3 separate regions of the Homo sapiens genome follow, and all the other regions are linked to region 1. Evidence: fine-mapped expression QTL. A gene starts in region 1. Each other region holds a variant in brackets. All regions are shown on one strand. Distances are between the middles of the regions. Region 1 holds the start of RAB20 (RAB20, member RAS oncogene family). Region 2 overlaps RAB20 (RAB20, member RAS oncogene family). Region 3 overlaps RAB20 (RAB20, member RAS oncogene family).

What was found.
Region 2: its variant is fine-mapped to the expression of RAB20 in monocytes after R848 (Quach 2016, PIP 0.91).
Region 3: its variant is fine-mapped to the expression of RAB20 in monocytes after LPS (Fairfax 2014, PIP 0.95). The same link has a PIP of 0.9 or more in monocytes and monocytes after interferon gamma.

The regions. Positions count from the first base shown.
Region 1 is chr13:110,560,044-110,562,709 of GRCh38, forward strand. RAB20 (RAB20, member RAS oncogene family) reads right to left here and starts at 1,679. Exons shown (of 2, transcript NM_017817.3): 1 at 1,305-1,679. The coding sequence starts at 1,476. RefSeq lists silencers at 1,239-1,298, 1,278-1,467, 1,359-1,808.
Region 2 is chr13:110,530,426-110,533,091 of GRCh38, forward strand. All of the region lies in intron 1 of RAB20 (RAB20, member RAS oncogene family), which reads right to left. Among named protein-coding and RNA genes, the nearest start is that of COL4A2-AS1, 24 kb to the left of the region's middle. RefSeq lists an enhancer at 333-949. The variant C/G (reference allele first, on the strand shown) is at 1,484.
Region 3 is chr13:110,522,354-110,525,019 of GRCh38, forward strand. RAB20 (RAB20, member RAS oncogene family) reads right to left here. Exons shown (of 2, transcript NM_017817.3): 2 at 713-1,844. The coding sequence ends at 1,312. Among named protein-coding and RNA genes, the nearest start is that of COL4A2-AS1, 16 kb to the left of the region's middle. RefSeq lists an enhancer at 2,275-2,414. The variant TC/T (reference allele first, on the strand shown) is at 1,153.

The sequences.
Region 1 (2,666 bases):
ATTGGGTTCAATTTGACTTTGTACAGAAGCAAATTGGGTTCGTGAATTGGGTTCGATTTGACTTCTAGAGCGTGTGTTCCATCGTTACCAAATGCTCAGTGTGAGGGAGTCAGCTCAGTAAACCTCATCCTGCAGCCTGAGGCAGAAGACAGAGTTGGAGCAAAGATCAGGGAAATGCACCTCTTTACCTGGGGGACATTGTTTTCACAAGATGATTGCCAATAAATTAGTCACGATGTTAACTGGGATAATAATAAAAAAGCATCAAAGAAGGCAAAAGGGAGGGGGAGAACTGGAAGTACCTCTGTGAGCTTCGTTAATTCAGTTTTAAAGAGAGAATTCATTATCATCTTGTTTATTCAGCATACTGATACACCCAAGATGGCAATTTAAGAATTCTGGACGGGGCCTTTGGGTATATGACTTTTTAAGATGCTAACATAAAAGAAGTCAGAACTTTCAGAGTTTCAGGCTTCTAAAAACTCACACTCATTGAAAATGTGTCACACTATTTCCAGTTTCTTCATTCACTTACAATATCTTATTCTTTTGTAAGGAGAAGGAAATATATTCCATTGCAATGCTACAATCACCAGTGTTATTTTCCAAAGTTAAACAGAAAGCCTGAATTGAGATCCTCTAAGTTGTACTTTTGAAAAGTCACAAATACTACACAATAAAAATAACTCATTACCTATCTTAAAAATGCTTCCACCGGAAGTCACTCCAACCCAAACCCATATGACGTATCTGAGCCAAGATCAAGCAGAAGATTAACTGTAAAAGGCAGATATGCTCCGGGCTAAGAGGTCCGGAGGCTCCAGTTTTATTTCCTCTCTCCTGACTAAACCCAACAGGGGGGAACACTCTGTGCCTCATTTTACTTTTTCTTAGAAAGGGGCTAATAACACCAGCTCTGCTCACCCCTCAAGTGAATCTCAAAGGATATCATGTTCCTACGGGTACGTGAAAACTGAAAATACCTAACAAAGCAGCCACAGAGGAGCGTCTCTGGTTCCCAGGGCGGCAGAGCAGGAACGCGGGGCTCGGGAGCAAAGGCAGCTTAGGTACACAAATGACCAGCGGGTTCTCTGCAACTTGGGTTGTCCCTGAGGTCACTGAGTGGCTGAGAGGCAGCGCTCAGCCCAACCAGCAAGGGAGGACGAGTGGGAAACCCCGAGAAGGAGGCATTTGCTGTCCGAGGCCGGGACCCTGTGCGCGGCCGGGTGCCCTGCTGGAAGCCCCGCGCCCCCCGTCCCCGGCGGAGCCCCAGGGCGGTGTGGCTCATGCGGCGCCGGCCTCACCTGCGGTGTCCCAGATGGAGATGTTGTAGGAGCGCCACTGCTTCAGGTAGAAGGCGCCGCCCACCGTGCTGACCGTGTCCGGGAAGCGCCGCTCCATATACCGCTGCAGCAGCGACGTCTTCCCCACGTTCATGTCCCCCAGGAGCACGATCTTGCTGTCGGGCTTCCTCATCTTCCCGTAAGAACCCCCAGCGCCCCCGCGCCCTCTCCCCGAGGCTGGCCGGCTCGTGCGCCCTGGGCGCAGCTGGAGGAGCGGACCCCGGACTCGCCGGGACCCGGATTCTCGTGAACGCTCCGGGACCTTCGCCTCCGGACGCCCGGGAGCTCAAGAGAGGAAGCGCGTGTGCGCGCCCGGGAAGGAGCTGGGTGCAGAGCACGGAGCCCACGTCGGGGGCCCGGACCGCGGCGGCCTCGCCTCGCCCCGCCCCCGCCCCCGCCCCCGGGCCCTTTCACCGCCGCGGCCCCGCCCTATCCTCCTCCGCCCACCGCCCCCGTCCCGCCCCTGCTGGACCTCGCCGTTTCGCAAGCATCCGAGTTCTCCAGCCGAGGCTCGGGACTGCTGCAGGGTGGAAAATGAAAGTTCTGAGAGCACCTTCCGCCCCTCCGCTTCTGCACAGCCGGGGCTGCGGTGCGAGGAGCTTGGCCGCGGGGCCCGAACGAGGCGAAGGGGCCGGGGCCCTTGGGGAACCCCCTTCTCTCTTCCACTCTCCCTTAGGTAAAACCCGTGTTCCTCTCACGCTCGACCCAGCGCCTTTCCAGCTGCGGTCGATTTGCTTCTCCGCGTGTAAGTACAGCCACCCTCAAGGTCATTGAAAAAGTTTGCTTTAAATGAGCGTCTGCGGAACTCGTCCTGAGGCTCTCACTGTTACAGATTAGAGATGGGGGCGCTTTCTAGTGGAGGATTTTGCTTTTGCTCTTCTACTTTTGCAAGAAGCTTTTTGTCCTGAAAAGTGGACAGTCATCTCCATTTATAGCTTGGAATGAAAATTTGACTATGGAAGTTGCAGTCGCTACTTGAGAAATATTTCCTCCTTCTTTTTTTTTTTTTTTTTTTATTTTTGACACGGAGTTTTGCTGTTGTTGCCCAAGCTGGAGAGCAGTGCGCGATCTCGGCTCACTGCAACCTCCGCCTTCCGGTTTCAAGCGATTCTCCTGCCTCAGCCTCCCGAGTAGGCGGGATTACAGGTATGTGCCACCATGCCCGGCTAATTTTTGTATTTTTAGTAGACACGGGGTTTCACCATGTTGGCCAGGCTGGTCTCGAACTCCTGACCTCGTGATCCACCCGCTTCGGCCTCCCAGGTCCTCCTTCCGTTTTAAAGGATAAACCTTGAAATGCTTTTAAAATATGCAGCGTGTAGA
Region 2 (2,666 bases), 30 kb before region 1:
AGACACAGGGCCCTAGGGAAGTAGGTCCCACCCGCCCCACCTCTACACAGACACAGGACCCTGGGGAAGTAGGTCCCACCCGCCCCACCTCTACACAGACACAGGACCCTGGGGAAGTAGGTCCCACCCGCCCCACCTCTACACAGACACAGGACCCTGGGGAAGTAGGTCCCACCCGCCCCACCTCTACAGACACAGGACCCTGGGGAAGTAGGTCCCACCCGCCCCACCTCTACACAGACACAGGACCCTGGGGAAGTAGGTCCCACCCGCCCCACCTCTACGCAGACACAGGGCCCTAGGGAAGTAGGTCCCACCCGCTCCACCTCTACACAGACACAGGACCCTGGGGAAGTAGGTCCCACCCACCCCACCTCTACACAGACACAGGGCCCTCAGGAGGCAGGTCCCACCAGGTTTGTTTCTCGAATTTACAGATCTAAAAACACAATTGTGTCTGTTCACCTAAAGAGCTAATTCCACTCACTTTATGAGGTTTAAGTTCTGTCTAAACAAGAGAAATGGAAGCCAGAACAGGACTTCGTAATTTATAGCAGGGAATGAGCTGTTAACTTCCACGATCCCGTCCTGTATCAAGGATAGGAAGCGCTGCATTAGCTATGGGAAGAAGCATGGCCAGCACAGTGTGAGTCCTCAGGGTTTATTATGCTCGTGCAGGCTTCCCTTTCCCATGTTTTACAGGAGGAGGAACTGAGGCACAGATGGAGAAGGAGGTGGGCAACAGACACAGGAGCGGTGGAGCCCTGAGAAGCACGCTGGCAACAGGCACCCCAGGGAGTCTGGTCTAACCACCCCCAGAGGCAGAGGAAGGGGCCTAGGGCCCCTTTGAGGTGGGCTGCTGGGCAGGAGAAAAGCCTGCCTCCACCCTGTGATCCCACAGAGCACAGGCATTTGCAGAATGCAGCCACCTTCCCAGGAGCTCCAAATTTTACGCAGAGAACTATCCTGGAAGTGCCGGCTAATTCGCTGGGCAGGGACTGCAGAGCGTTCTGGTAAACAGCCCCCACTCTAGAGACAGACTACATTCAAATCCCCACCGTGTGACCTTGGGCAAGTCACTTAGACATGCGGTACCTCAGTTTCCCCGTCACTAAAATGTGGGTTACACCTGCCAAAGGGTGGCTGAGAAAGCAGAATCTGCACACAGGTGAACTGGCTGGAGCTGCACCCAGCACATTAGGCCCTGTAATAGAAGTGCTTGTTCCATAAATCGTGAGATTCCTCCCAAACCTAAGGATGGATGCCACCGTCCCAGGGCTGCCCATGTCCCGGGTCTCATCATCCCTCCATTTACACACCACCTCCTGGGGCCGACTGGGCGCTTTTGCAGTGGACCAATCTTCTACGTTTCTTATTCTCAGATGATGACCTTCTCCCTGGTCCTGGGGGTGCTCCGGATGTTGCCAGATCAGTGGAGCTGACATGGCCCAGGGTTCAGGCAGAAGGGGAAGGGAAGTCAGCA[C/G]CCACAGTAATCCTGATTCACTGTTGCGGAACCAAAAACTGCCCAAGTGCTTTCCATTTCACTCTTCAGCCTTCCCAAAGCCAAACACAGCCAGGCTTCTACCCCAAGTGTTGTGTCGTTTTCACTATTGGTTTAAATAAGAGTGGGTTGAGATAGCCATCAGAAGCCACGGACACCCTTGGCTCACATCTTAAGCATGGGGTGGGGAGACTTAAAAAATACTGATGCTCAGACCCTGACCCAGCTGCCAGGGCAAGAGTGGGGCTGGCATTTGTATCAGCTTTAAAAGCGCCCCAGGTGAATACCAGGTGCACCAGGAGTGAAAATCAGCAATTTACCCAGTGAAAGTGGGAAATAAAAGGGCAGCTATTGAAATGTAAGAATTAGAAAGCTTGGTATTTCAATTCATTGAAAAGTGAGCCCTACCAGGAAATGCAAACACTGAGACAACAGGAACTTTCATTATTTATTTATTTACTTTTTCTTGAGACAGAGTCTTGCTCTGTTGCCCAGGCTGGAGTGCAGTGATGCAATCTCAGCTCACTGCAAACTCCACGTCCAGGGTTCAAGCAATTCTCCTGCCTAAGCCTCCCTAGTAGCTGGGATTACAGGCACACACCACCAAGCCCAGCTAATTTTTGTACTATTAGTAGGGACAGGGTTTCACCATGTTGGCCAGGCTGGTCTCAAACTCCTGACCTCAAGTGATCCACCCACCTTGGACTCCCAAAATGCTGGGATTACAGGCGCGAGGCACCACGCCCAGCCTATTTAATTATTATTTTTTTGAGACAGAGTCTTGCTCTGTCACCCAGGCTGAAGTGCAGTGGTACGATCATGGCTCAATGCAGCCTCCATCTTCTGGGCTTAAGTGTTCCTCCCAACTCAGCCTCCCGAGTAGCTGGGACCACAGGTGCATACCACTACACCCAGCTAATTTCTTTTATGTTTGTGTAGAGATGGGGACTTACTATGCTACCCAGGCTGGTCTTGAACTCCTGGGTTCATGCTATATTCCCAACTTGGCCTCCCAAAGTGCTGGGGTCACAGGCATGAGCCACTGTGCCCAGCGGAGAACAGAAACTTTTAAGATGAGTTCTCTGCCTTGCCAGATCGGACAGCCCCCTGGCAGGGAGCTCACAAAACATCGATGTGACAACCTGAGGAAAGGAAAAGTGCATAT
Region 3 (2,666 bases), 38 kb before region 1:
GATTGCTTGAGTTCAAGGGTTTGAGACCAGCCTGGGCAACATGGCAAAACCCCAACTCTACCAAAAAAAAAAAAATTATTGGGGCATGGTGGCACATGCCTGTAATCCCAGCATGTTGGGAGGCTGAGTCGGGAGGATTGCTTGAACCCGGAGGTACAGTCTGCAGTGAGCTAAGATCACGCCACTGCACTCCAACCTGGTGACAGAGCAAGACCCTATCACAAAAAAAAAAAAAAAAAAGAAAGAAAACAGCACTTATGAAACCCACTGCCCAGTGCCATCTGCCCCACATTGCCTCCCAACAAACAGCCCCGACCCCAGCCTGCTTTCGTTCAGTCACATTTCTGGGAAAACAAATCTGCTGTCTCCTGGCACCTCTGTCTGACATCTTCCAATAAAGCAGCCACCCCACGGCCAGCAGCAGCAGACCCGAAGGGGGTTTCTGACTCAGAGACCTGGGTGCTCAGATGCCCCAGACTTCAGCAGAACCAGAGCTTTAAGCTTTGCTACTATTATTGGAATTCAAGTCATCAAGAAAACTAGACAGATGGGCCAATCTAAATATTCTGCAATTGGTAAGGATTTCACAGAGCTTCCGCACAAAGAGAGACGTATCTCAAGTTCACAGCCATCTCCCCAGCGCCCCCCACCCTACCCCACAGAGAGTCCCTGGGACTGGGGGTGCAAATGAAGTCAGTTCAGTCTCAATACCTAAGTTGTTCCAAAAATCCTCTTTAATAATACATGTAGCCAACATTGCTGCAATCAGTATAAAAACAAAGTTATTCCTGATTTTGTATAAATGAACACGTCGAGAGTCAGGATTATAAAGCATCAAGATACAAGTACCAAGTGGGAGGACCAAAGACAACTCACAGTGAAGAGAAACGCTTGAGAACAAGAAATGTCAGAGTTGTAGGACGTGGTAACAACCCAGGGTGCTGAAACGGTCAGAGGTGCAGGTGCAGACGCAGGCTTCTGCCTCTGCAAGGGCAAGGGGGCCGTTGGTGGCTGGCTGCAAAGGACCAGTGCCAGGCAGCGGGGCAGAGAGCACCAGGGGTCTCGACTCTGCAGATTGGGCTTTGCAGAGGATTCCTGTTTCCCACCTCCCCACCCCTCTGACAGAGACTGAGGAGACCACACACGTTGACC[TC/T]CTCTTCATAGCCAGCCATCATTTCCACTCCAACATTCTGCTGCGGGTGTCATTCTGGAAAATAATTCCTTGCTGTTCCTTGCTCCTTTCAGATCACAGCTTGCCTGGTCAGACCCCTTCCCAACATGCACAGTCTGAGTCCAGGAGGCCCTCGAAAGTCAGGCACAACACCCAGATCTGGTCCTCTTGGGTGGCTTATGACTGGATATATCCACTGTGTGTGACGGCCTCTCAGCTCTCTGCTGTAAGATCATTGGCACCACCAGGTCAAAGAGGGTCTCAAACAGGAGGTCCACATTGTAGCCGGTCTTGGCGCTGGTCTCAAAGCACATTTGCTCAGCGGCCGGCACATCCTGCTCATCCAGCATCTTGTACTTGAGGATCTTTTTATAAAGGGCCACCGCATCCTCCAGCTGCACCTGCTTAGGTGCCCTTGGGGAGACACGGTCCCCAGCGTCCATATTGGGACTGCACTCTTCCTTCTCCTGGCCCGCCAAGGCCCCCTCCTCAGTGAGGTCCACTTTGTTCCCCACGATGGCAAAGAGGCAGTCTTTGCTGGCTGTGTCTGTCAGGCCCAGGAACCGGTCCTCCAGCTCCACCAGGCTCTGCCGGTGATTCACATCATAGGTGAGGATGATGGCGGCCGCCCCCCGGCAGTACATGGAGCCCAGGCCGTGGAACTGCTCCCGCCCTGGTGGGAAGAGAGGGACAGAAAGAGTGGTTATCTCTCATCTCAGAACATAGCCACCAGCCACACTGCAAGGGAACGTCCCACAGGGATGTTTATTTTTAGGGCAACACACACAGGATGAAATGCTTAAACATAGTTGATGGAGAATGTGCCACCCATGGGCACCATCCCCAAAGCAGGCAGCCCCTCGAGAAAACAAGCTGTTGGGTGCCCAGACTAGATGGGAAACAGAATCCAAGAATGTTCAGGAAGAACGGGCCTCAGGCATTCACACAGCCCTCCCTGCCTTCAAGCACCAACTCCAAAGGAGTCCTGGCCCCAGCCATGGCTGGAGATGGAAGGAATCAAGAACTGATGTCCAGAAAAAAGCAGCGACTGCCAAGGCCCTTGCTGAGATAGAAGCTGACTCGGGAATGCAGACTCCGGAAGCAAAGTGTGCCCATGTCCCTTCACCCTCCTCCTTTACACCCCCTGGGTGCTCCCAGCTGCCCTGTGCTGCCCTGCCCAGGAAGTGCTGCGGGGAGGGCTTCTGAGTTCATAACAGCAGTTGTAAACCACACCTGCCCTTATCTGCCCAGAATCACACAGCACCCTGCGGTGCTCACGATATTTTTAGGACACAGTGGACATCTCCCCTCCCACGCTGGAATCGGAATCCCTGAGGAGCCAGGCCCCAGCATTCGCACTTCTTGTGGGTGCCGCAGCCCCGCCTGCCCTCCAGGTTTAAAACAGACAGAGGTGCGGGCAATTGCAGGCAAGCCGGGAACCTGCTCCCAAAACATTTCCAGGTTGAGATCAAACCCTCGGGACACAGCTCAACGT